Linked DNA regions of Homo sapiens. The protein of the gene in region 7 purifies or fractionates together with the protein of the main gene of each other region. This does not show direct contact. Each region holds a gene or a part of one and is shown on either strand. Other genes may lie near its edges.

The links.
Region 1: the proteins of ARRDC4 (region 7) and RHOBTB3 purify together in Homo sapiens (affinity purification with mass spectrometry; one large-scale study listed by BioGRID and IntAct). This does not show direct contact.
Region 2: the proteins of ARRDC4 (region 7) and MYO1D purify together in Homo sapiens (affinity purification with mass spectrometry; one large-scale study listed by BioGRID and IntAct). This does not show direct contact.
Region 3: the proteins of ARRDC4 (region 7) and MYO1B purify together in Homo sapiens (affinity purification with mass spectrometry; one large-scale study listed by BioGRID and IntAct). This does not show direct contact.
Region 4: the proteins of ARRDC4 (region 7) and MTR purify together in Homo sapiens (affinity purification with mass spectrometry; one large-scale study listed by BioGRID and IntAct). This does not show direct contact.
Region 5: the proteins of ARRDC4 (region 7) and IPO9 purify together in Homo sapiens (affinity purification with mass spectrometry; one large-scale study listed by BioGRID and IntAct). This does not show direct contact.
Region 6: the proteins of ARRDC4 (region 7) and XPOT purify together in Homo sapiens (affinity purification with mass spectrometry; one large-scale study listed by BioGRID and IntAct). This does not show direct contact.

What each region holds. Positions count from the first base shown.
Region 1 is NC_000005.10:95,783,336-95,786,835, reverse strand, and holds part of RHOBTB3 (rho-related BTB domain-containing protein 3), read right to left. Parts: intron 3,040-3,500; coding exon 2,873-3,039; intron 1-2,872. UniProt on the Homo sapiens protein: Rab9-regulated ATPase required for endosome to Golgi transport. Involved in transport vesicle docking at the Golgi complex, possibly by participating in release M6PRBP1/TIP47 from vesicles to permit their efficient docking and fusion at the Golgi.
Region 2 is NC_000017.11:32,755,125-32,758,624, reverse strand, and holds part of MYO1D (unconventional myosin-Id), read left to right. Parts: intron 1-2,962; coding exon 2,963-3,133; intron 3,134-3,500. UniProt on the Homo sapiens protein: Unconventional myosin that functions as actin-based motor protein with ATPase activity. Plays a role in endosomal protein trafficking, and especially in the transfer of cargo proteins from early to recycling endosomes.
Region 3 is NC_000002.12:191,384,904-191,388,403, forward strand, and holds part of MYO1B (unconventional myosin-Ib), read left to right. Parts: intron 1-980; coding exon 981-1,181; intron 1,182-2,320; coding exon 2,321-2,547; intron 2,548-3,500. UniProt on the Homo sapiens protein: Motor protein that may participate in process critical to neuronal development and function such as cell migration, neurite outgrowth and vesicular transport.
Region 4 is NC_000001.11:236,889,292-236,892,791, forward strand, and holds part of MTR (methionine synthase), read left to right. Parts: coding exon 1-45; intron 46-1,841; coding exon 1,842-2,038; intron 2,039-3,500. UniProt on the Homo sapiens protein: Catalyzes the transfer of a methyl group from methylcob(III)alamin (MeCbl) to homocysteine, yielding enzyme-bound cob(I)alamin and methionine in the cytosol. MeCbl is an active form of cobalamin (vitamin B12) used as a cofactor for methionine biosynthesis.
Region 5 is NC_000001.11:201,870,657-201,874,156, forward strand, and holds part of IPO9 (importin-9), read left to right. Parts: coding exon 1-202; intron 203-504; coding exon 505-671; intron 672-2,171; coding exon 2,172-2,305; intron 2,306-3,500. UniProt on the Homo sapiens protein: Nuclear transport receptor that mediates nuclear import of proteins, such as histones, proteasome and actin. Serves as receptor for nuclear localization signals (NLS) in cargo substrates.
Region 6 is NC_000012.12:64,410,892-64,414,391, reverse strand, and holds part of XPOT (exportin-T), read right to left. Parts: intron 1-3,500. UniProt on the Homo sapiens protein: Mediates the nuclear export of aminoacylated tRNAs. In the nucleus binds to tRNA and to the GTPase Ran in its active GTP-bound form. Docking of this trimeric complex to the nuclear pore complex (NPC) is mediated through binding to nucleoporins.
Region 7 is NC_000015.10:97,959,568-97,963,502, reverse strand, and holds the start of ARRDC4 (arrestin domain-containing protein 4), read right to left. Parts: upstream 2,801-3,935; 5' UTR 2,642-2,800; coding exon 2,335-2,641; intron 1-2,334. UniProt on the Homo sapiens protein: Functions as an adapter recruiting ubiquitin-protein ligases to their specific substrates. Plays a role in endocytosis of activated G protein-coupled receptors (GPCRs).

The DNA.
Region 1 (3,500 bases), on a different chromosome or scaffold from region 7:
TTGACGTAAGAAAATGGGTTCAAACTGAAATAAGCAACAGAATTTTTAAAAAGGCATTAAAAAACCATAAACCAAATGCAATAGAACTTAAGAGCTACAAGAAGAACGTGGAGAAAATACCCATAAACTCACAAGAAAGTACCTGGAAACTCTCAGAAATACAACTTGTGCCTCAGATAGCCAAATATTAACATATAGATTATAAATAAGAAGATGCATTAAAATTTTTAATACAAGAATAAATACAACTTCATAGGAATCACCAAAGTTTGAACAGATAGGGTTTAAACAGGAGTAGAGATACGGAATCTCCACCTCAACTCTTGTATTTTAAGAGTCCTCCTTGATGGAAACCTGAAGGTAAATCATGGTAAAGAACTGAGAGAGGTTAGGGGAAAATGGACAGAGAAGTGAGAGAATACCCACACTGCTCATCTATCTAAGAAAGTATGAATGATGTTTCCTGACACACAGTACAAAACTGGCAGAGTGTTCAGAAATTTTGATTATTTGGAGAGCTACTGGGAGTCTAATTCTGCCAGAAGACAATTTCACTCCTAAAAGTCAGAGAAATGGCAAGGCAAAAGTTAACCAAATTCTGACCAACAGGGTGAACTGACTGGTGAAGTGAAATCTCAAACTAGGAACTTCAAAGAAAACTTGGGAAGAAAACTTCTGTTATCTGGAATTCACAATTGCCAAATTAGGAACCACCAGGAAAAGAATACAGGAAAACTGGTAAATTTAGGCTTAATCTTAGAAAATAAAAAGTCTTCAGAAACAAAATTCAAAATGAGCTTGTATCTTAGATTGTTTGAAATTCAAGGGGAAAAGATAAGGATAATCACAGAGTCAGAAACCAGAGAATCAGGGAAAACAAGTCAAGAATTTCTGACAGTGCAATCAAAAATGATTCTGATGAGGAACCAAGTGTAGGGGGGCAGTGAGGGGAGGCACCTAAAGAAATCAATGTGACCACACGGGAAGTTCTCTTATACATAAACAATTTAAGAAGATACTAAAAGATAAGGAAAAAGAAACTTGTGTCCAATTTTTTAAAAAGTATGAACAACTTGTTAGAATAGTATGAAAATGATACATCAAAAATGAACTGAGATTGTGAAACTACTAGAAAGAATTTTAAAAATTGTAAACTAAATTTAGAGGGGAGCTATTTATCATGAGATGAATGTAAACGTTTTACAAAAAGAGATCAGTGTTACTCAATTTTTTTTTTTTTTTGAGACGGAGTCTCACTCTGTCACCCAGGCTGGAGTGCAGTGGCACGATCTCGGCTCACTGCAAGCTCCGCCTCCAGGGTTCACGCCATTCTCCTGCCTCAGCCTCCCAAGTAGCTGGGACTACAGGCACCCGCCACTATACCCAGCTAATTTTTTTTTGTATTTTTAGTAGAGACTGGGCTTCACTGTGTTAGCCAGGATGGTCTCGATCTCCTGACCTCGTGATCCGCCAGCCTCGGCCTCCCAAAGTGCTGGGATTCCAGGCGTAAGCCACCACGCCTGGCCCTACTCAATTTTTAAATTTGTTTTTAGCCCTAATTAAATACATGTGATCGTAAGACTTGATTATGAGAGAAATGAAGTCCAAAATAGTTAAGGAGATAGTAGGAGAAGACCTAGATGCTTCAAATAAATTCCCTTCTATAAACAGAAGTGTTGATGAATGAATTCGTTTCAGCTTGGAGGCAAGCATTCAGCTGTCACAGATCTGGAATTTGCCCCATCATGTGGCTCCATTTTAGCAATGTGGATGGAGATAAAAGTTGTCATGCTTTTGTAACCCTGGACGTCAAAGTTGATAGGTATAGACATGTTGGATGCCAGATAATAGTTCAAGAAGTACTGACACTCTGTAGTGATTGAACAAATATATTCCTGTGAAAAAAACCTAGAGGGCTCGGCTTACCACAAGTTGAGTACACAAGAGTGTGCCATAACTACCACAAGTGCTGAAACTGTCTCGGGCAGTGGATGGAATGGCAGAATGGCCAACGGTAGGATGGCCCATCTGAATAAGCTTTCTGCTTCCAGGAATGAAAGAAAGTGGGAATAAGGATTTGGCAGGTTTTTGACTGTGAGCACATCTGGGGGTTTGGGAAGTAGATTTCAACACAGTAGTCCTAGTTTATTTACAGACCTGGCTCTGATTCATAATTTAGGGCCTCTGTAACTGCAGTTACTTAAAATTAACTTAATTATGTAACTCCCCCACCCCCGTTCTCTAAAATCAGTAATGATATAATTATTGAAAACAAAAGACTCCGAGCTTACAAGAGGCCCAGAAGAAGCATGTACACATACGGCAGTGATTGCTAATAAGGTGAGACATGAAAACAAAAGGCATTCTGCAAGGATAAATGAGGCACACCAATATCTCCTACATACAACTGAAACTTCAAAACATGTTCATTATATGGATGAAAAAATGAAGAAGTAAATTAGTTTAGCTTAACCATCGCTATCAGTATATATGGACCAATTCTGTCATTTCCCTTTTAGGAACCTGAAGATGTGATTGTTTGGGGAAATTCAACATAAATTCTATTTCCTACAATGCCTATGTGACATAGTATAGCACCACATTCAAATGACTCTACTAAGGGCCACTATTTAGTTAAAAAAATTCCGTATCTGGACATTTTGCCTCCTTATAAAAGGGACTGCACACAAACCCTAACGCTTCAAAATTATCTAGCCAGATAAACTGTTGTGAAGGCACTTTAGCCTCATTAGCCAAACTTCCAAACTAAGACTAGTATTAACGTATGTTAAAAAATGATAAATTTTAAAATAGTATAATTTGAAAAATATTTTATAAAAAACTAGGCTATCAGATACACAGAGTCAATTACCTTGGCCTTTTTAAGCAGGTCAACTATATCAAGGTTCATGGATGCCAGTTCCCTGCTTGGCATGCTCTGCAGCTGGGTAATGATGAACAGCTCACAGATGTGCTGCAGTCTGGACACTTGGTACATCTCGGCACAGATCAGGAGACACATGGCCTGGAATATGCCAGCTGATGAGAAAAGGGACATGAGAGAAAGTGGATGATGAAACCATTTCTTTAATGATCTAAACACCCCCCACCAACAAAAAACAACAATTAAAAAAACATGCTGACCGTAGCATCCACCATAGAATAGAATGGTTAGGAAAAGCCTCGAGGGAGTCAGCATTCTGCACTTTTATTCCATTTTATCTTTTTTTTCTTTCCTTTCTTCTTCTTCTTTTTTTTTTTTTTTTTTTTTTTTGTAGAGACAGGTCTCACTATGTTGCCCAGGCTGGTCTTGAACTCCTGAGCTCAAATGATCCTCCTACTTTGGCCTCCCAAAGTGCTGGGATAACAGATGTGAGCCATCACACCCGGCCTATTATTCCATTTTAAAAAGAAGGGCCGGCGCAGTGGCTCACACCTGTAATCCCAGCACTTGGGGAGGCCGAGGTGGGCGGATCACGAGGTCAAGAAATCAAGTCCAT
Region 2 (3,500 bases), on a different chromosome or scaffold from region 7:
CAGTTGATTGCCAGTCTTATGCCATCTGTACTATACCCACCTACTCCCAGATTATTTTGAAGCAAATTTCAGATATCACATTATTTCATCTATTCAATTGGGTATCTATTCAGTAAATATTTCCATGTATTTCTCTAAGAGAGTTTTACAAAAACCATAATCACAATGCCATTATCATACCTAAAACATTAACAAAAATTCCTTAATATCATAAAATATCCAGTCAGTATACATGTTTCATATTTCCTTAATTGTCTTCTGGTTGTTGTTTTGCAGGTTAAATTTGGATCCAAATAAGTTTCTTACATTATGATTGATTGATAGGTCTCTTGCATATCTATAGATTTTCTCCATGTTTCTTTTTTTCCTTGAATGATCTCTCTTTGCAATCTTGTGTTGAAGAGAATGAGTCATTTGTTATGGAGTTCCCCACAGTCTGGATTTTGCTAATTGCATTCCTCAGGTGCCATTTAATATGTTTCTCTGTTTCTTGTATGTCCTGTATATTGGTTGTTAGATCTAGAGTCTTGACTGGATTCAGAGTCAGTTTTTTTCCACAGCCCATTTCATAGACTGTGTGTGAACTTCCACCAGGAGGTTCATAATGTCTGGTTATCTGGTACATTCACTTTTAAAAGCTTTCGATGCTGTAGTTTGCAAATCATTTTAACTATTGAGAACTTGATACTCAAGCACAAAGCTGTTTTATCTGGAGTGGGTATGAAAGGCCAGAGCCCCATGTCCCTAAGCTACCCCATCACAAGTCTTCTGGCTCCTGGTATCCCTTAGGAAACCTTACGGGAATGCCAAGTTGCTGGAAGAACTTAGTTTGAAAACTACTGGTTTAAGCAATGTTTGAAGCAGTATTAAACTTACAAACTGAAAGTTACTAGCAGAGACCAATAGCTTTTAATAATATAATTGGGATTTTAGGGAAGGTAATTCTTTAGTCCCTGGGACAAAAGACTTCGTCTTTAATTTCACAGTCCCGAAGTCTAAGATGTCAACTATTAATATAGAGCTCCTGCTTTTTGAGTATTTTTAGGATTTTTTTTCCAAAGATGGAAATAACTTTTCTCCCTAATTAGAAATGTAATAAATGCCCATAATGAAAGTAAATATTTAGACCTACACTGCTTCACCTCAGTACTACTGAGATTTTGTGCCAGATAGTTCTTTGTTGTGGAGGCTGTTCTATGCATTGTAGGATGTTTAGCAGCACCCCTGGCCTCTACCCACCAAATGACAGTAGCACCCCTACCCCATTTTGACTAGAAATGTCTCCTGATATTGCCAAATGTCCCCTGGTGAGCAAAATTCCCCCTATTCCCCTATTTGAGAAACTTTAGTTTAGACAGATCAGAAAAGTATAAAAAACAAAGTAAAAACTACCCAGTTTACAGGTTTCAGTCCATAAGATACAGAAGAGAACATGCAAGACTAGAAATGGAGCTAAAAGCCATGTACAAATAACTGGCATAAAACCTTGGATTTTAAAGCATGAAATGGGAATACATGAGTCACTTGAATGGTCTATTATGAGTATATAGACCTTATAGAAGGTAATGGAGACAGCAATCAGTTTAGGTAACTCCTGCGTAAGATGGGACATAGCAAGATTAAACTGTGTGATCATAAGCTGCCCCTCTTTGAGATGTGCAGCTTGCCTGAGTTGGCCTTTCTTTGTGTGCCTTCTGTGTGTAGTGATAGGTACATTGCAGGCTGTCAGAATAAACAGGTGTGGCAGAGGATTGTTGGACAAACCTTGTACATGTATAGTTGCTGAAAAGCCAGAAGTTATTTATAACTTCATTCACCTTGTGGAAGTAAAGGAAAAGCTTTTTCTTATCTTTTATAGATATTTATTTCTCAGAATTAAATTCTTTATATTATGCCTAGAAAAATGTAAAAATTCTACTGAATTTTTTCAAATTGTTCAAAATTCTATTGAAGCTTTTTAACTTTGGGGAAACCAAAAGAAATGCTCTTTTGGATTTTAGTCATTCAGGGTCATGTAACTAAAAATGCAAGTTCTTTTTTTTTTTTTTCCGTTTTAAGTGGAGTTTATTTAACACTAAGAGATAAAGGGTTGTTAACAAACACAATGACAAATGGACATCTGATTGGGATGAGGCATTATCCTGTACACATAATGTTGATATTTTTGTGTACCCTCAGTGCATGGCATTTACACATAGAGCCACTACTGCACAGCACAAGAGTATCTGAAGAGGCTGAATCAGAGTAAGGCTGTTTAAAAGACTGAAATTTTTTAGTATATATATTCTGCATGAAAACAGAACTTTTGAACTGGCAGGTAGAAGGCAACTCTGCCAAACACTACAGTTAAAGCCCCCACTTTAGTGCACAGTTCCACCCCTTCCATCTGCATGCGTGACACATTAACAGTATTTAAAGGTAAACGAGGCACTTTGTGGCAACTGCAGCCATCGTTATGAACATATTGCACAAAATTTCTAGAACTAAACATTTAACTTGTACCCTACTTTTATAAAATTGCAAGTTTTGTGTAGTACCTTAACTTTATTATGAAGTAGTATATCAGATAATACTTTAAGGTTATTTGTTGGCCCTTTGTGGAAGGTGGACCTTACAGTTAATGGCAGGCAGATTGGTATGAAGGAGTAGGGTTGGGTGTGGGATCTGGAGGCAGGATTAAAATGAGTTTGTAATGGGAGAAATGGTGTCTACCTTATTATCTTTGCCTTGGGCTGTACTAATCTCAGACGGTGTATTTCATGATAGAAAGTTAACAAAGAAATTTAAAAATAAACCTCTGTTAGAATGTGTACTCTTTTTAGCGTAAGACCTCTTTAATGTTATTCACACATTTGACACCAAAGTAGTTTTACCTGAACTCCTGATACAAATGGGAGCATCAGGGTTTAACCTGGCCTGGTCACTGTTCTCTTCAGAATTCCCTCCTTGCTGTGTCCTACAGATTGACTACTTCAACAATCAGATCATTGTTGACCTCGTGGAGCAACAGCACAAAGGGATCATTGCAATCCTTGATGATGCTTGCATGAATGTCGGCAAAGTCACCGATGAAATGTTTCTTGAAGCACTTAACAGTAAATTGGGCAAACACGCCCATTTTTCCAGCCGAAAGGTAATGTGTTTAATGACACCTTCTTCCTTTTATCTGTGAGGTTCTCCTTATTGTTTGATGGAGTTCAACGACTTTATATGTTGGGATAAAAGAATGTCCCCTTTAATAAGAAAGAAAAGTCATAAACATTCATTAAATGATTTGTTGCTGTGGATAAATTCTGCCTCTCTGGTTTATAGTATGAAGAAATTGATAAAATCATGTTAATCCAGGAGAGGGAGCTCCAGACTATGCAATTTGGTAGAAACAGGAAAAATGAGCATGATTCTTTAGAAAGCATGATGTCATTTGTAACCAATAGATGTAGAGTCCTTGCTCATGTGCTAGAATTTTACTCCTGCATCTGATAATTCTGGCATGGAAAATA
Region 3 (3,500 bases), on a different chromosome or scaffold from region 7:
TGTTCTGGGGATGTTATGAACACACTTGATTCCTGAGAGTCCACGCTTCCCCAGGGTTTTGTGTGGAATGAATAAATGCTGGTCAGAGGATGTCGTGGCCTTGTTAGCAGAAGGGGAGAGGAACAGAGGACTTTGCCTGGGTGGAAGTAGGTGGGGTTGATGGTCAGTGGAGTGGATTGTTTTTGGAATTAAGACTTATGACCCCATAGGGGCAGTCCATGGAGTAGCAGTCTTTATTTAGCAAAGTAGAAGCTTCCTGACTTCTGATTCAGTTTAGGGCTGACTACTCTTGGAATAAAAATGACCACAGGGTCTAGATATGCAACAAATAAATTTTCACTTATGTTTAACATCCATTTAGAAATTCCACATGAATTTCTAAAATCTAAATCTATATGAAACAGATATTCTTGAAATCAGTTTGATTGCAGTGATTGTTAAAAGCAGCATCTCAAATCACAGCATTTTTTTCTAGGAAATAAACTTTATTTTGAACACATGAACAATTTGGAAACATAGAAAACGAGTTTCCTTCTTAGGAGTGAATCAAATAATGGCCTTAGAAGACTGCTTTGTGATTTGAGACATGTTATAGAGGCTGTATTGTCACATTCATTTCTGCTTTTAGATTTCTTTTTGAATCTTTGAGGTCCAACTTGTCTTTTTGTAAGAGTATAAATTTCAGTCATCATCAGGCTAAGGTGTCTGAGGCAACTCCCAGGTACTGTTGTTCTGTGCGAGGAGAGAGGAACCAAGAAGACACACTCTTCCCAACCACACCACCATACACACACCTGGGATCCTTCAGGAAAGAGCTGATTCCTGTGGCTTTTGTTATTGTTTTGAGTCTCTGCTTTTTGTTATAACTGAACAGACTTTTCTTGTGACTAAGTTGATTGTGTTTGATGGTGTAATTAGGAATAATTATTAAAACAATATAGTGAGGAAGGAAGGAAACTTTTTTATTTCCGTTTTCCCAGAACACAAATGGAATCCTGGCCATGCTGGATGAAGAGTGCCTCAGACCTGGCACAGTCACTGATGAGACCTTCTTAGAAAAGCTGAACCAAGTATGTGCCACCCACCAGCATTTTGAGAGCAGGATGAGCAAGTGCTCTCGGTTCCTCAATGACACGTCTCTGCCTCACAGCTGCTTCAGGATCCAGCATTATGCTGGAAAGGTATGGGGGAGCTGTGAGCACCCAGTCAGGCCTGCCAAGTTACCCCTGCAAGGAGGCTGTACCTCAGAGATGGGCGTTCGAAACCCCATTAACTTGTGAGGACAAATTGAGCTGCTAAAGTGGTTGAATCGATAAATGTTCAATAGAAATAGAATCTGGACCATGTTGACTAAAATCTTATTAATACAGAAAATCAAAAGCAAAGCTAATGGACTTAATGAAGAGTCTAAATATATTTTTGAATCATCTTTATTATTTTCAAACTCTAAGCTATCCTATAAAAAATATCTATTAACACTATTGAAGGAGATTTGCCAGTACAAATTAAGAGTCAATAAAGACTTAAGGCTTTAAAAACACAAGCCATTTAGCAAAAATAATGAATTATTTGAGATTTTGAAATGACATTAGGGAAAATATTTACTTTTTTAAAACACTTATTTATTTGGTTAATATTTGGGGGAATTAATTTTATGTCTAATATATAAAGACAATGCTAAAAACAATCTTAATTGATTAATCTTTAGAATCCTGAAAGAATATTGATTAGAGCTAATACTTCCTTTTTCATAAAATTGCAAACTTCAAAGGGAAAAAAACTTCTTGATTATACATTTGTAAAAAGTATATAGTACCTGAATTACCTTTAATTTCAAAATGTTAGAACTTGGTACTTTATTTTTTTTATTAGCGTATATTATTAAAAGATAATTTCTGATCAGCTTTTCTGCTGCTCAGGATATTTATGAAAGTGTTAGTATTGTTTCTATTTTGCCCCATCTACTTTTAAACAGACTAGAATTGGTATGTGAGAACTAAAAAATAAAAGTAAAACCCCAGAATATGTTCAGACTCCTAAAAAATGCAAAATCCTTTGAAAATGTTATGATAACATTTTTGGAGTTTATTCTTGCAAATCCTGAATGGTAATAGAATTTATTTTGATCTTGTCTGTGATTTAGACAGATGGAATTTAAACTTGGAGGCGAACTCATTATGAGAGTGTGACTAACATGTCAGGGATTTTTTGATGGTGAAGGAAGTGGCTGCAATGTAGATAGTCTTGGAGTATTTTTAATAGTTGTTTGACATTATAGCATGCAATGTGCCTGTCATTGAGTTACATGTGCTGCTTATAGGTGCTGTACCAGGTGGAAGGATTCGTTGACAAAAACAATGACCTTCTCTATCGAGACCTGTCCCAAGCCATGTGGAAGGCCAGCCATGCCCTCATCAAGTCTTTGTTCCCCGAAGGGAATCCCGCCAAGATCAACCTGAAAAGGCCTCCTACAGCAGGCTCACAGTTCAAGGCATCCGTGGCCACTCTGATGAAAAACCTACAGACCAAGAACCCAAACTATATTAGGTATTTTTGGCACATGAAACTTTCACAGTTCAAATGTGAGAGCACCCCGAAGGAATATCATTTTTCCCTTTGCTTCAATCTGAGTGTAGCCCAAGCAGAGGGTAACTAAAATACTTACAGATTAAATAATACCTTATCTGGGATTGGCTTAAAAAATGCTCCACTATCCTTTCCCCTAAAATAAGAAAGTAAAAAAGTAAAGTGTGGTGGAGAAGATAGTAGATATTTAATGAAACTCAGTGGTTGAGACCTAGGGGTTTTCAACTTTCTGTATGTTTATTATTATTTTTTTAATGGCAAGTTAAAAAACAAAATGCAAGTGTTTTTTCTGGTCAGTGTTTTGCAGAAAACTCTTGTTGGCTTCATTTGGGATTCTTGTTCTATTAGCTTAGAGCACAGCATTGAAGCAAGTGCTTTAGTTAACTGCTCTGGCACTTCTTAGGAGACATGCACTTTTTTCTTCCCTGTGAGAGGTGTAGGCCTGGAGAAAGTAATGATTCCTAAAGCAATCTGAATTTTTTTCAAGGCAGTAGAAAGACCTTCTTAAAAAGGGCTGGGCGTGGTGGCTCACACCTATAATCCCAACACTTAGGGAGGCGGAGGCAGGTGGATCACCTCAGGTCAGGAATTCGAGACTAGCCTGGCCAACATGGCAAAACCCTGTCTCTACTAAAAATATAAAAATTAGCTGGGCGTGGTGGCAGGAACCTATAATCCCAACTACTTGGGAGGCTGAGGCAGGAGAATCGCTTGGAGGCAGAGGTTGCAGTGAGCCGAGGTCACGCCACTGCACTCCAGCCCGGGTGACAATACAAGACTCCATCTCAAAAAAAAAAAAAAAAGGAAAAAGCCTTCTGGGCTCTTCTCTTTTTCTGCTTCTAGGGCATCTTAGACAGAACTCTCTCTAGATTTAGTAAAGACCAACTAGGATTAGAGTTTGCTATGTGTGTATT
Region 4 (3,500 bases), on a different chromosome or scaffold from region 7:
ACCCGAATCGAGGCTTTCCCAAGATATTTAACGACAAAACAGTAGGTTAGTGCAGTAAGTCCTTCCTTTCTGCCTCTGATATTCAAGCTGTGGGATTGTGACTTTGAAGACCGGAATCGGTGAGGAGCAGTGGATTTGGATTGTGCAGATTACGGCTGCTTTCATATTGCTCACCTGCCCAACTTTTTAATGGTTTTCAATCTGCTAGATTGGTCCTTATTGCATCAACTAAATTTGGTATTTACTTTATTCTTTCAATAAATGTTTATTGACATCAGTTACATGCTGAGCACTAGGGATAAATGGAAGACAATATAATCCCTGCTGTCTAGCACCTGACTAGCTGGCACATCCAATAGTAATGGGCCCTGCCTGGGCTCCTGTGGACATAAGAGGAGATAGAGCTCAGACTGGGAGGTCAGGGCAGGCTTCCTGGACAAGGTGGTGTTCGAACTGTTTTTGACGATTCAGTGGGAGTTGCCGTGGCTGGGACTGTGGATGTGATATGGTGTTGAAGAAAAGGTCATTCCAGGTAGAGGAGACAGTGTGAGAAGGCACAGGCACATGTGCCTATTTGGGGAACTGCAAGGAGCCCATTGTGCTTGGAGCATTGGGGAGGGAATGGGGATTTAGGGTGATAAACTAGAGAAGTAAGTGAGGTGTTAAATTACTACCCCCACTTCTCACTTCTAGCCTTACCCCAGAATCCACCGACAGAGACACGGAATCCAAATGCAAAGCCATTCAAAGGATCAGGTAGTAGCCAGATCAGAGCAGCAGGGAGGGGTAGACTCACAGAAGCATGGGATTAGGGCTGAGAGGAGCCTAGAAACCAGCCTTTTGCCAAGTTTCCCACGGGGGGGCGTGCCTGGGTGTGCGTGTTCGGATGCTGAGACTCAGGAACTCTCAGGTAGTCAGGAACGTGGTGATGAGCAAGGGGCTTCTTAGTGTGCTGCCCCTGAATCATCACAGGTGAGCTGTCCAGGGGCCGTGGGACAGGCTTCTCACCATGGGCAGGGTGGCCGAGTCTCACGGAAACCGAGATGGTGTCCTCGGAGGCTGGCTCCCACTGCAGGTCCGGGAGCAGGCCAGCCCAGGTGCAGCATTGAAGCCACATGTGAGGATTTGGGCCACACTTCACCCCTTACCACTAACGTTCCCTGTACACATACAATTCCACTGACTTCACAGCGACCTCTGGGGGACGGGGCCTGTGCCTTATATTCACCATGCTTTGTATTCTGTGGTGTCTGGGCCTGGACGCATACAGTGAGGATTTACCGAGTCTGAGTGCATAGGGTGAGGATGTAGCTGTCCTTGTTTAACTCTTCATGGTACTGTTGAAGGCCCCAAATTGAAGAATCCCTTCAGAGGTTGTTACGGTCAAAATGTCAATCGTTACGAATTATATTGTAGTTGGGATTAAAAGCACCACGGAATACGAGGCACAGGTCGCGTCTCCCAGAGGTCACTGCAAAGTCAGTGGAGTTGTATGTGCACGAGGAATGTCAGTGAGGAATGTGGCCTGCTCTTTCTCATCCTCTCTGACAGAATGCTTTGGGGAGCCACAGCTTTGGCTCTCTGCTTTTTGTCCAGTGGAAAACTTGAGTGGCTTGAACTGGGAGAAGCAGACTGTGGGAGCTGCACTTAGCAGGAGCCGCAAAGCCCTGGCTGTTCCACTTTAAGCTGGGTCAGTGGCAAACACCAGAAAGCATTTGAGGAAAATGGAGAAGCCTGAAGAGGGAAGGTGACTGAGGAGGGGTAATGGCTTTTAAAAGAAGCATTGTTTGATGGTTATTTTTGGCATCTTTAAGTGAATTCTAATTCTGTTTTTCTAATAGGTGGAGAGGCCAGGAAGGTCTACGATGATGCCCACAATATGCTGAACACACTGATTAGTCAAAAGAAACTCCGGGCCCGGGGTGTGGTTGGGTTCTGGCCAGCACAGAGTATCCAAGACGACATTCACCTGTACGCAGAGGCTGCTGTGCCCCAGGCTGCAGAGCCCATAGCCACCTTCTATGGGTTAAGGCAACAGGTATGGAAGGTGTACTGACAGCCAGCACACCGCTTTCGCTTGTGAGTTTAAGCACTACACAAAAGAGCTTTGCATAAATGAGGGTCTGCTTCACCTCCTCCCAAATGACCAATCACATGCCCAAGAAGTGACCAGTCACACGCCCAAGCCCAAGCCATCTGTGAGGACGAGGGAGAGAAGGCGCCACCATGGGTGTCAGAGGCAGGACCACTCAGCAGGAGTGAGGCGTTTAATATTGTGTTCCATGGATGGGCGAGGACCATTGCTGCTGTCTCAGGTGGTCACGTGTCAGGATCTCAGTCTTCTTAGCTTCTGAAGAAAGAGAACACTCACTTGTTCAAAAACGTAGGTTAATATCTATGCATATTATTAAAATAGACTGTCAGGTGGCTTCCCTTGAAAGGGGAAGACAGGTGGAAACAAACATTTGCAGAATGTATACCAGGTGCCAGGTGCATAGTAAGGTGCTTGATGGTCATGCTTTTAATTTCCACACAGCCGTGTGAGGCAGTTTAAGTTTGTGTTTTACAGAGAAGATGAAGGATGATGGAGATTGTGCTGGGCCCCCCAATATAGAGAGGAGAGCCCAGCCTGTACATATCCCCAGTGGCCGTTCTTTGACTGTGCTGGCTTTTTTTCTTTCGAGTGACGAGAACAGACTCTTCTCAGCAACTTGTCTCTCATCCCCCCCACCTTTGAAAAGGCAAATATCATATGCATGTCCCTTTAGCTGCTGTAAAAAAGAGTGTCTTAATCAAGAATTGGAACCAGAATTCACCAGAGTCATTAACAAATTTAATAATTTGCAGAAAATTACTCTGTTTTACTGCCATTTTCAGTCGTTCAGAAATAATAATGTTGGCTGGGCACAGTGGCTCACACCTGTAATCCCAGCACTTTGAGAGGCCAAGGTGGGAGGATTGCTTGAGCCTAGGAGTTTGAGACTAGCCCCGGCAAGATGGCAAGACCCTGTCTCTACAAAACAAATTTAAAAATGAGCCGTGCACTGGGGAGTGCAGGCCTGTACTTCTTCAGCCAGCTACTCGGGAGGATGAGGCGGGAGGATCACTTGAGCCTAGGAGATCGAGGCTGCAGTAAGCCATGATCATGCCACTGTATTCCAACCTGGGCAACAGAGTGAGACCCTGTCTCTAAAAAACAAACAAAAAAGATAGTGGCGCATTTTAATCCCAACCACAATATAATTCATAATCATCCATATTTTTACCATAACAGCATCTGAAGGGATTCTTAAATTTGGGGCCTTCAGCAGTACCATGAAGAATTAAACAAGGACAGCTACATCCTTACCATATGCACTTAGGCTCAGTAAATCCTCACTGTATGCGCCCAGGCTCGGACGCCACAGAATATAAGGCACTGGGGTTCTAATGTTAAGTTCCAGCCCCTCCTCACTAGGGAATTTGTGGCTATTCTTTTACAGACATAACTGTTCAAAAAC
Region 5 (3,500 bases), on a different chromosome or scaffold from region 7:
CCACAATGGACTGTGGTATGTGATGCAAGTGGTGAGCCAGCTCCTGGACCCCCGCACCTCAGAGTTCACTGCGGCCTTTGTGGGCCGCCTTGTTTCCACCCTCATCTCCAAGGCAGGGCGGGAACTCGGGGAGAATCTAGACCAGATTCTTCGTGCCATCCTCAGTAAGATGCAGCAGGCAGAGACGCTCAGTGTCATGCAGGTAAGAGAGCAGTGGGGAGTGGGCTTCCTACTCCCTGGCTGATAGAAATGAAAATTCGTATTTTGGTCCTGAGTTATTTTATTTTACCCTCTTACTAGCCTTGTAGGACAGTTAAGTAAAATGGGACCTGTCTGATCTGTTTGGCCTAAGAAACATGGACAAGGAAATCTCCCATGTTTTCTTGTCCTGTGGATAATACCCTCAGTGTAGACTGTATTTCTTATCTGACTGGCCAGTTCCCTCTCATCTCCTATGTCTCTGAAATTGATTTCCCTGAAGCAAATGTCCTTATTTTCTCCTAGTCCCTGATCATGGTGTTCGCTCATCTGGTGCACACTCAGCTAGAACCTCTCTTGGAGTTCCTGTGTAGCCTCCCAGGACCTACTGGCAAACCTGCTCTAGAGTTTGTGATGGCTGAGTGGACAAGCCGACAGCACCTGTTCTATGGACAGTATGAAGGCAAAGTCAGGTAGAACCTCATCTTTCTTTTCTGGGCATTCTGCCACCACTCATATTTCTTTTTTTTTTTTTTTTTTTTTTTTTTTTTTGAGACAGTCTCGCTCTGTCGCCCAGGCTGGAGTGCAGTGGCACAATCTTGGCTCACTGCAACCTCCACCTCCTAGGTTCAAGCAATTCTCCTGCTCCTGCCTCAGCCGTCCGAATATTACACACATGCACCACCATACCCAGTGAATTCTTTGTGTGTGTGTTTTTAGTAGAGAGAGGGTTTCACCATGTTGGCCAGGCTGGTCTTGAACTCCTGACCTCAAGTGATCCACCCACTTCGGCCTCCCACAGTGCTGGGATTACAGGTGTGAGCCACTGCTCCTGACACATATTTCTTTTTTTTCCTGATTTGCTCCATTGATTTTTGTTTGACATTTCAAATGGCTCTCTGTATTCCCTTTTCCCTGTCTTTCTTTATTGCTAACGCACATATGTGAATAGCTGCCATCTTGAAATCCCCAAAAGACAGTCAACACAGGTAGACTATATATTTCTGGTCTCTGTTTACAAGAGATCCCTTCTCTACCACAGACTTCACACAGCTAAGTGCTGCTAGTGGCTTATTTTCCTTTATAAGCCCAAGCCTTGGCCAGGCACAGTGGCTCACACCTATAATCCCAGCACTTTAGGAGGCTGAGGCGAGCAGATCACCGGAGGTCAGGAGTTCAAGACCAGCCTGGCAAACATGGTGAAACACTGTCTCTACTATAAATACAAAAAATAGCTGGATGTGGTTGTGGGTGCCTGTAATCCCAGCTACTCGGGAGGCTAAGGCAGGAGAATCGCTTGAACCAAGGAGGCAGATCACGCCATTGCACTTCAGCCTGGGCGACGAGCGAAATTGTCTCAGAAAAATAAAAATAAAAAACCCAACCTTCTAACCCTGGCTTCCTAACTTTTTATCCTGGATTTTTATACCACTGATTCTTATCACCTCGTTGCACCTTACAATATGGTGCAACCTTAGCTTTGTTCAAGAAGAACAGGTCACCTGTAATCCCGGCACTTTGGAAGACTGAGGTGGGCGAATTGCTTGAGACCCACCCGGGCAACATGGTGAAACCTGTGTCTACCAAAAAAATACAAAAATTAGCCAGGCACGGTGGCGCATGCCTATAGTCCCAGCTACTTGGGAGGCTGAGGTGGGAGGATCACCTGAACCCAGGGAGGTCAAGGCTGCAGTGAACCATGATCACACCACTGCACTCAGCCTGGGTGACAGAATGAGACCCTATCTCAAAAACAACAACAACAACAACAACAACAAAAAAGCACAGATCTCATTAAACCACCTCATGAACTCTAAAATCTCATTTTCAGCTGAACTCTCTTAGCTCTCCTAATTAGTTGTTAACGGAATTTTCACTATCAAATAGAGGGTCTTAGGACATAATTGCTTATCTCCTTGGAGTGAACTCGAGATGGGCGGCTGATTGACCTTTTTTTGGATCTTCCTTGCCAGCTCTGTGGCACTCTGTAAGCTGCTCCAGCATGGCATCAATGCAGATGACAAACGGCTACAGGATATCCGTGTGAAGGGAGAGGAGATCTACAGCATGGATGAGGGCATCCGCACCCGCTCTAAGTCAGCCAAAAGTGGGTGCTGCTGCGATTCTTCCAATCCTCTCCCTATACGAAGGGGCTAAGGATACCTGGGTGAAGGGAAGGAATGCACTGTGGTGTATATTTTTAAAACAATTGTTGGTGATGGGTTTGATAAAGAAGAAGCAGGAAACTTAGGTAAAAGGGATCAGAACATACGGTTTCTTCCTGTTGTGGAAAATGGACAAAAATAGGCCGGGCATGGTGGCTCACGCCTGTAATCCCAGCACTTGGTGGGAGGCCAGAGCGGATGGATCACTTGAAGTCAGGAGTTTGAGACTAGCCTGACCAACATGGTGAAATCCCGTCTTTACTAAAAATACAAAAATTAGCCAGGCATGGTGGTGGGCGCCTGTAATCCCAGCTACTTGGGAGGCTGAGGCAGGAGAATCGCTTGAACCTGGGAGGCAGAGGTTGCGGTGAGCAAAGATCGTGCCACTGCATTCCAGCCTGGACAACAAAATGAGACTCCGTCTCAAAAAAAAAAAAAAAAAAAAAATGCAGGCGTGGTGGCTCACACCTGTAATCCCAGCACTTTGGGAGGCCGAGGTGGGTGGATCGCCTGAGGCCGGGAGTTCGAGACCAGCCTGACCAACATAGAGAAACCCCGTCTCTACCAAAAATACAAAGTTAGCCAGGCATGGTGGCGCATGCCTGTAATCCCAGCTACTCGGGAGGCTGAGGCAGGAGAATCGCTTGAACCCGGGAGGTGGAGGTTGCAGTGAGCCAAGATCACGCCATTGCACTCCAGCCTGGGCAATAAGAGCAAAACTCTGTCTGAAGAAAAAAAAAAGACAAAAATAGTCTCAGGCACCAAGCATCCCAGCTTCCAGCTTCATTCAGAAGCGTGGGCACAGATAGTCAGCATGTCTTTGTTACTGAGTTGCCTTTGGCCTGTAACTCCAATGATTTGCAGGTAGGGAGTATAGAGCTGCTATCTTTAATGTAGATTTATAATTACCTCCGCTGTCTCTCAAATTCTAAGTCATTGGGACTGGAGTACTGGCTCTATACAGTTCCTTGGTTTCAGAGCTTTATTACTAACAAGACTGTATCTCCTTTAATCCCTGAACTCTCATCTCTCCCAGCTTCTGAACTGTTACAATACCAAACAATAAAGTTATTTAACTTTAAGTCACTCTTTGGAGACTGGATATAGTCAGGTACAGTGAAAGTCTGAGGGGTGGTG
Region 6 (3,500 bases), on a different chromosome or scaffold from region 7:
GTAAGTTCCCTAAAGAGATTAAAATTGGAGTACAAGTGCATGATATGAATTTTGAAAAATATTAAGTAACTGAAAAGGTCAAAGCTCGAGGAAGTTTTTTATCTCTAAGTTTATGAATTCAGGGCCTTGTAATCACAAGTAACAGTGCCAACAAGGAGCAAGAGTACTCTAGAATGGATGCAGCACCAAGTCCATACGCTCTCTACCAAACTGTTGGGAAAATGGGAGTTACTTCAGGCACTCTTCCCATCAGCATGTTGCACCAGATGCAGGTTTCACACATGGCAATGGACAAATAGTAGTGAACATCTTGTGACAAGTATCTCCAATAGACAAGAAAATTGCACATCAACTGGAAGCACTGCTAGATGATTTGACAGCAATTATGTATGAAACAAAAGCTGACATGAGGTAAAAGAAACATTAGCCTTAGAGAAACCTAATTTCAATTGGTAAATATTTTTAAAACGGTGGTGTCTCCCACTAGTGATGAAATCAGTTTATGGGTCCTGAACAATAATTTTTAAAAATGAAATAGAGAATATTAGATATTCTGTACTATACCCTAGCAAGAATATTACTTTCTGTAACTTGTTTTAGTTATTTATGTGCATATGTACCTATAAATATATACACACACACTGGGTCATCGAGATGTAAAGTTATTTTTTTCTTTGGGTTACAGATCAAAGCCACTGTATTTATATTTAGGTGATAGTTTCCTATACTATGTAACTGTATGAATGAGGGAATGGGTTTTCATACATGGTCTCAATGGCTGCTCCCACTGACAGAAGACCAGGTAAATGAAGATGATTAGGTGAAGATCACCAAATATAATATTAAATATATGGTATAACGAAAAAATACATTTGGGCTTTGCAGCCAGTTGCTGGCTCAGAGCCCTTAAAACTCTTGGAAAATTTCCTGAGCGACAGGACCGTCTTTTGTTATTTATAATGAGTCCTTTGGGCCAGGCACAGCAGTTCACACCTATAATCCCAACACTCTGGGGGGTCAAGGTGGGAAGATCACTTGAGGCTGGAAGATCACTTGAGGCCAGCAGTTCAAGGCTAGCCTGGGCAACATAGTGGGACCCTGTCTCTACAAAAAATTTAAAAATTAGCCAGAAGTGGTGACGTGCACCTACAGTCCCAACTACTTGGGAGGCTAAGGTGGAAGGATCACTAGAGACTTCGGGGTCAACAGAGTTTATGTTAATGAGGTAACTTGGTGTGGGAACACTAGACAGCCTCAGGATACAGCTGGTTACCAGAAAGATCAACTGATTAGAGTGTTGAAACTTTTACCCTAACCACCAACCTCTGGGAAGGGGAGAAGGGACTCAAGATTCAGCTCTATAAAAACTCTTGAACTTCCAGGTTGGCAAACACATCGAGATGCTGAGAGGGTGGTGTTCCTAGAGAGGGTGGTGTTCCTAGAGAGGGCACAAGAGCTCTGTGCCCCTTCCCCTATACTTTGCCCTATGCATCGCTTCCATGTGGCTGCTCATGAGGTGGATCCTTCATCAGCACAAGAAAGTCAACTGTTTTTCTAAGTTCTGTAGGCTACTCCATCATCAGAAATATGAGAGGTTCTGGACTCAATTAGTGTCTTAAGTGGGGGCGGTTTGTAAGACCGAGCCCATAACTTGTGGGATGTGATGCTAATCCTGGTAGTGTCAGAATTGAATTGATTTGTAGGACACCCAGTTGGTGTCCACAGAAATCAAGAGAGTTGGTTGTTGGTATTGGAAAACAGCCCAGAGTAAATAATGTCTCTCTTTAGAAGTTAAGACTATAAGAACACAGGCAGCTATAAAAGATAGTACTAGCTTAGTTGTTTCTAACAGCAGTCCATGAAACATAGGGTATTCTTTAGGAATATCTCAGAGGCCAGAGGACAAGGTAGAAGTTAATCATGTATGTTGCATTACCACCTAATATTTCACTTACAAAAGAGGGGAGAGGTGGTTTCAGCTGCTAGAAATGTCATGACATACCATTTTCTTTAAATAATAACAGGTTTTAAGCCAAAGACGAGTGTTTTATTTTTTAAAAAGGAGGAGGCTGGGCGCGGTGAGTCATGCCTGTAATCCCAGCACTTTGGGAGGCTGAGGCAGGGAGATCACAAGGTCAAGAGTTTGAGACCAGCCTGACCAACATGGTGAAACCCCGTCTCCACCAAACATACAGAAATTAGCTAGGCGTGGTGGTGTGTGCTTCTAATCCTAGCTACTCTAATCCCAGCTGAGGCAGGAGAATCTCTTGAACCCGGGAGTTGGAGGTTGCTGTGAGCCAAGATGGTGCCATTCCACTCCAGGCTGGGCAACAGAGTGAGACTCTGTCTCAAAAAAAAAAGGGCGGGGGGCGGGGCAGGGGTGAGAGGAAGGAGAGGAGAGATAACGTGGAAGTTTTTAGTTTTTAAACAAAGCCTTTGTATTCTGAATCTATGCATTACTAACAATTAAAAAAACAAAATTCTACAACACTGACAAACAAGTCCTAGCTTTCACCACCTAGTTCTACCCCATACCTTTTTTCTAATGGTTGACTGACTCTATGTGACAAGAGTCAGTTCAACTTTTATTGCCCATGTAAAAAACAGAGAATTACAGATAGACAACTGAGCAATTGGGGTTGGCAGACAGTCATTCTTCTCACCACCAAACTGAATTAAGTTTCCACTACTCCCGAACTGCAACAAAAGGGCTTTCAGAATTCACTTTAAGATTTCTTCCCTTTCATCCTAATAAATTGTTATTCAGATTGGCTAAATGGATACTGAATTATGCCTGGACCTGGATGCTTAAAACACGTATGTGACAGAACCCATTTTTACTGACAAAAAGCAGAGCTTCTGTATTAAAACCACTAATAATGTATTGGTTTTAATTTTCTGAAAAAGAAATCATGGCACATTTAAAAAAATTGGATGCTGGAACTTAAGAGGCAAAGAAAATGCCTCTTTCATCCAAAAATTGGATGCTGGAACTTAAGAAATGAAAGATTTCAAGAGGCACATAAAAATAACAGTAAAGGCCATTTAATAACTAAACATACAGTCAAAGGCTTTTAATTACAAGCATGCAATACCAAGCTAGACTAAAGGTAAAGATCTATGATACTTCAACTATGTTTGAAGGTAGGTAGCATAAAACCCTATGACAAGAAAGATTTGTTTACACACAGAAGACATGGATTTTAAATGTCTTTTGATGTCCTAACTTGTTTGATAGGTATCTTGTAATTAGCCAGATACTTAAATCTCAATTCCTATTATTTTCCTGTATCTGAAGGGCTCGTTACTTATTTAGTAGCAGAGACATGCACATGGTACTGTATTAGAAACTAGTTGGGATTGTTTTTTACTGCTTTAAAAGATTTTTTTCTTAAAATAAGAATAAAAACTGCTATAATTTTTAGTGAGATTGTTAACCTCATTTAGCTCATTTATAAAAAGTATTCTTTGCTATGAAAAGTAAAAAGAAAATGCCTCTT
Region 7 (3,935 bases):
GAATGAGAGACATGAAGTTCCCCTTTCATTAAGCAACAAATCGACATCGGATCTATATCATTTAAAATGAGACTTTCAACTATCTCAAAACATAAACAGGAAAAAGAAATGGAAAAACTGATAAAAATGGGTTATAATATTTGGAATTCAATCTTTGTTTTCTTTTCCTCTTTCTCAAGTTTTGTTTTTAATGTAAAAGGTTCACAAGCTGAACCATGTGCCCATTTCTGCTTCTGCACCAACCGCTCATTATTTCTGTCTTGTATACTGAGCACTACAAAGTCACAGGAAGATGTTTCAATCACTAATGGCCTTACAGCCAAAGCTCATAATTAAAGGTTTTGATGAGCCGTGGGATGCAGAAGACCATTACAGAGGCAGAGACTGGGGCTCAGGAAGGGTGAGGGACTTGCATAAGGTCACACTGCTGGTGGGTGACCAAGAACTGAGACCAACTCTCTGATTCTGGCTTGTTTTCTACTACAGTTTCTCAATAAAAATATGAAGAAAATCAATCACAATGACAGCAAGTAGTTGAATTAGATTAAGGATGTCAAAGAATTATCTGGAGAGCATTTGTGAAAACAGATCCCAGTGCTACATAATATGGATTTCTAAAAATCTCCTTAGGTGATTGAAACACAGCCAGGTTTTGTAATTAAATTACCCCCAGAATCTAGACTGTGTAAAGATGCTAAGTTCTTCCAAGCTATAGATATTAGGGGTGACTTATTTTTTTTCCCCAACTAAAAGAGACTATGATTTTAAGCAAAATGTAATTGTGCCAATATGTGCTATGATACATTCTAAAACAAGTTTAAGATTTTCAAATTGTCTAGTTTTTACATTCTGTTCCACATGTGTATATATGTGTGTGTGTGACGAATAAACATCTGACTTGTGAATTAAAAAAAATGTTAGCCCAGATTTTACCAAAGCAGTTTTTTATTGCTAATCCCAGGTTCAACTGCTTTTAATTTTACATCTATTGACTCAGCAGTTATAGGCCCAGAGATACAGTCCAAAGTCCTGGACAAAAATCAATGTATGTCTCACTCCCAAGGTCCTTGACTCCATTCGGCCATCTTGCAAATTGTATTGTCTGCTTCCACTGGGGCCTGGGTTGATCCTGGAAGCCATACTGAGGAAAGTGCATGAAGGAGTAAGAACTATCACTAACACACTGTTCCCATTGATCCAAAAGGCAGTTTTGGTTCCAAATATAGTTTTCCTCACTACAATTTTGGGATGACTCAGATGATCACTTACCTCGAGGAGTTCACTGTGTCCACAGTAGGATAGGGCAAAACCACATATTCTATTATATTTTGTATAAGACATAGCACATAGATATAATGCGTTTACTCTTCAAGGAGAGGAGGTGCATACCATTGTTTTATTTGATAGATAAAAGCTCATGGCAAAAACGTAAAAGTTTAAACTAGTTTCCATCCATGAAATGAGTAAGACTCATGGTTCTTAGTATTTTCGTGACTAAAGGGATCCAATTTTGGTATCTAATATTAATGAAACGCTCATGTAGTGTGTCCCCACATGGGTACTTCTGGAAAAGTCTACACTGTGAACTGGACTTCACCAAAGTGAGCAGGAAGGGAAATCCCGACACGCCCTGATGCTCTTGTCTCTAAAGGCATTTTGAGTGGAGAGAAGTGGGGGAGAGGGGAAGAAGCGGGTAGGAGGGGAGGAGGAGGATGGGGAGGAAGAGGATGCGGAGGAAACAGCAGCAGTATCAGGTAGAGGTACAACTCTTACTAAGTTGCCCTGCTCCCCAGAAGAGGGAAACCAAGCATGATGATCAAGTCTGGAAAACACTTCCTTTGAACTCCTACCCCTCAGAAACTACTTCCCTATTCCCCAAACCAAATTTCTGCTAATTCATCATGAACCAAGAACGTATGCAGGATAGGGAGGAGTGGAGGCCATAGGACACGGGCACCGCAGAATGGAACCTCATAGCCGCCGGTTCCACCGTCCCTTTCTTGGACCAGAAGGAACAGGACCTAGATTTCTGGATCCCCCATTGTCCAATCACAGGTTCCCACCGCACCCAATGGCCCCCTCCCGTCGCGGTCCTAGAAAATCCCGAGCCACTGGTCCCGGTCAGGCCCGGCGGGCCAGGGGCGGGGCGCCAGGAAGAGCTGCGCACCCAGGACTTGCGGTCTCTCCTTACCCGCGAGGGTAGGCCGGACCCCACCCCCGGAAGCCCGCCCTGATCTCACCTGCCAGGTGGGCATCCCGAGGGTGCGCGGCCTCCCAGCCCCTCCCCGGCCCCGCAGCCTGGCGGGGGAACCCCAGGCGCTCGCCTGCGCTTACCGGCCGGGGGCTCCCGCAGGCTGAGGCGCACGTTCAGGTACTCCACCTCCGAGAAGACAGCCAGGGCCGCGGTGCTGGCCGAGGCGCGGGGGCAGGTGCTCGGGCCCCAGGCGGCGGTGGCGCGCCCCTGGGCCTCCAGGCGCAGCGCGCGCAGGGCCACCGGCTCGGACGCCTCCAGCAGCACGTGCCCGGCCACTGTCTCGCCGCTGGAATAGCAGCCCTTGCGCTCGTCCTCGAACACCAGACCCAGGCTCTTCACGCGGCCCTCGGCACCCACGGCCGCCGCGCACCCAGCCTCCCCGCCCATCCCGCCGGGCGACTCTTTCCTGCCCCTGAGGTCGGCAGAGGCCCGGAGCCGGGGTCGCGAGCACAGCGGCGCCGCTGTCACAGGCGCTCGCGGCAGGGTAAGGCCGCCGCGGCAGCCGTGCGGTACCCGATGGGGCACCGGCTCGCCGAGAGGCCTGTCGCTTTAACAAACCCAGTTGGGCCTGGAAAAGGGCCGGGACAGCCCACCCCCGGCGGGCGGCCATTGGTCAGCTGCGAGCCCTGCTTCTTGCTGATTTGTTGTAGATGGTCACTGAGTCATTTCATTGGCGCTCCCACGCGTGGGTGGGCGCAGGAAGGCCGTGCGTGATCAGGGAGTGTTGGCCAATCGGGAGGCTCCGGCGTGCACGTGCACAGGCCGTTTACTGGCTGAGGCCAGGCACAGTCCTGGAGCCCTGGCCAATAGTGAGGCGGTGCGCCCATGTGGACAGACAGTGGGAAACAGTATCTGTCAGGGAGGGGGCGGAACAGGGTTATCTCCGGCTCTCAGCGTGTCAGCCGTTCCCATAGTTACGAACGGGGGCGGGGTTTCTAGCAGCGTAAGGACTTTGCAGGAGCCACTGGGTTCTCGCTAAAGCATGAAGTTGTGGCTGTAACTGGCTTGTGTTTATGATTACATCTGCAATACTCGAGGGGAAATAGATGCTCTGGGAAACGGAACTCGGCAATATTTCCTTTTGAGATCTTGGGGGCCGGCCGCATCGGGACTTTAATGAATGACTTGGAATCTTCTAACCTCCAGGTTTTTGATCACCGCCTCTCCCAGGTTTCAGAATTCCCAGCCCATGTAAGAGCCATAGATAAGAAAAATGAGGGTTGTGGTTTTAAACCTGATACATCCCCTAAGGAGTTCTCCTCCTAAGCTCCGCAGTGTCGCTGTTAGGAATAGCTGGAACTCTGATTCTTCCTGCTGTAAATAAGATCATGAATCACATTGTTTTTGAACAACATCTGTCACTCAAGTTTCTGCCCCACCCGAAAGTTTCCTGACATCATTGTCATATCCACAGAAATTTCCAATTGCCTTGATGACTTGTTCCTCACGCCCAAGTTTCCTCCGGCTTGTCCTGCTACATTTTCCTTTTCAACCTTCCATTTTTTCTCTGTTCTGTTTTTTACCATCTTGCATAGCTGTCATTAGCTGGTCATCATTTTCTTAACTTTTAAGTTGTCCCCTTATCGACATGCCACGTTTGTGAGCTGTTATGTATTGATTAATCTCACAATGAAATTTAGCAATTTTCCTAAAAAAAAAACCTCAAAGTAAAGGTTGCTCT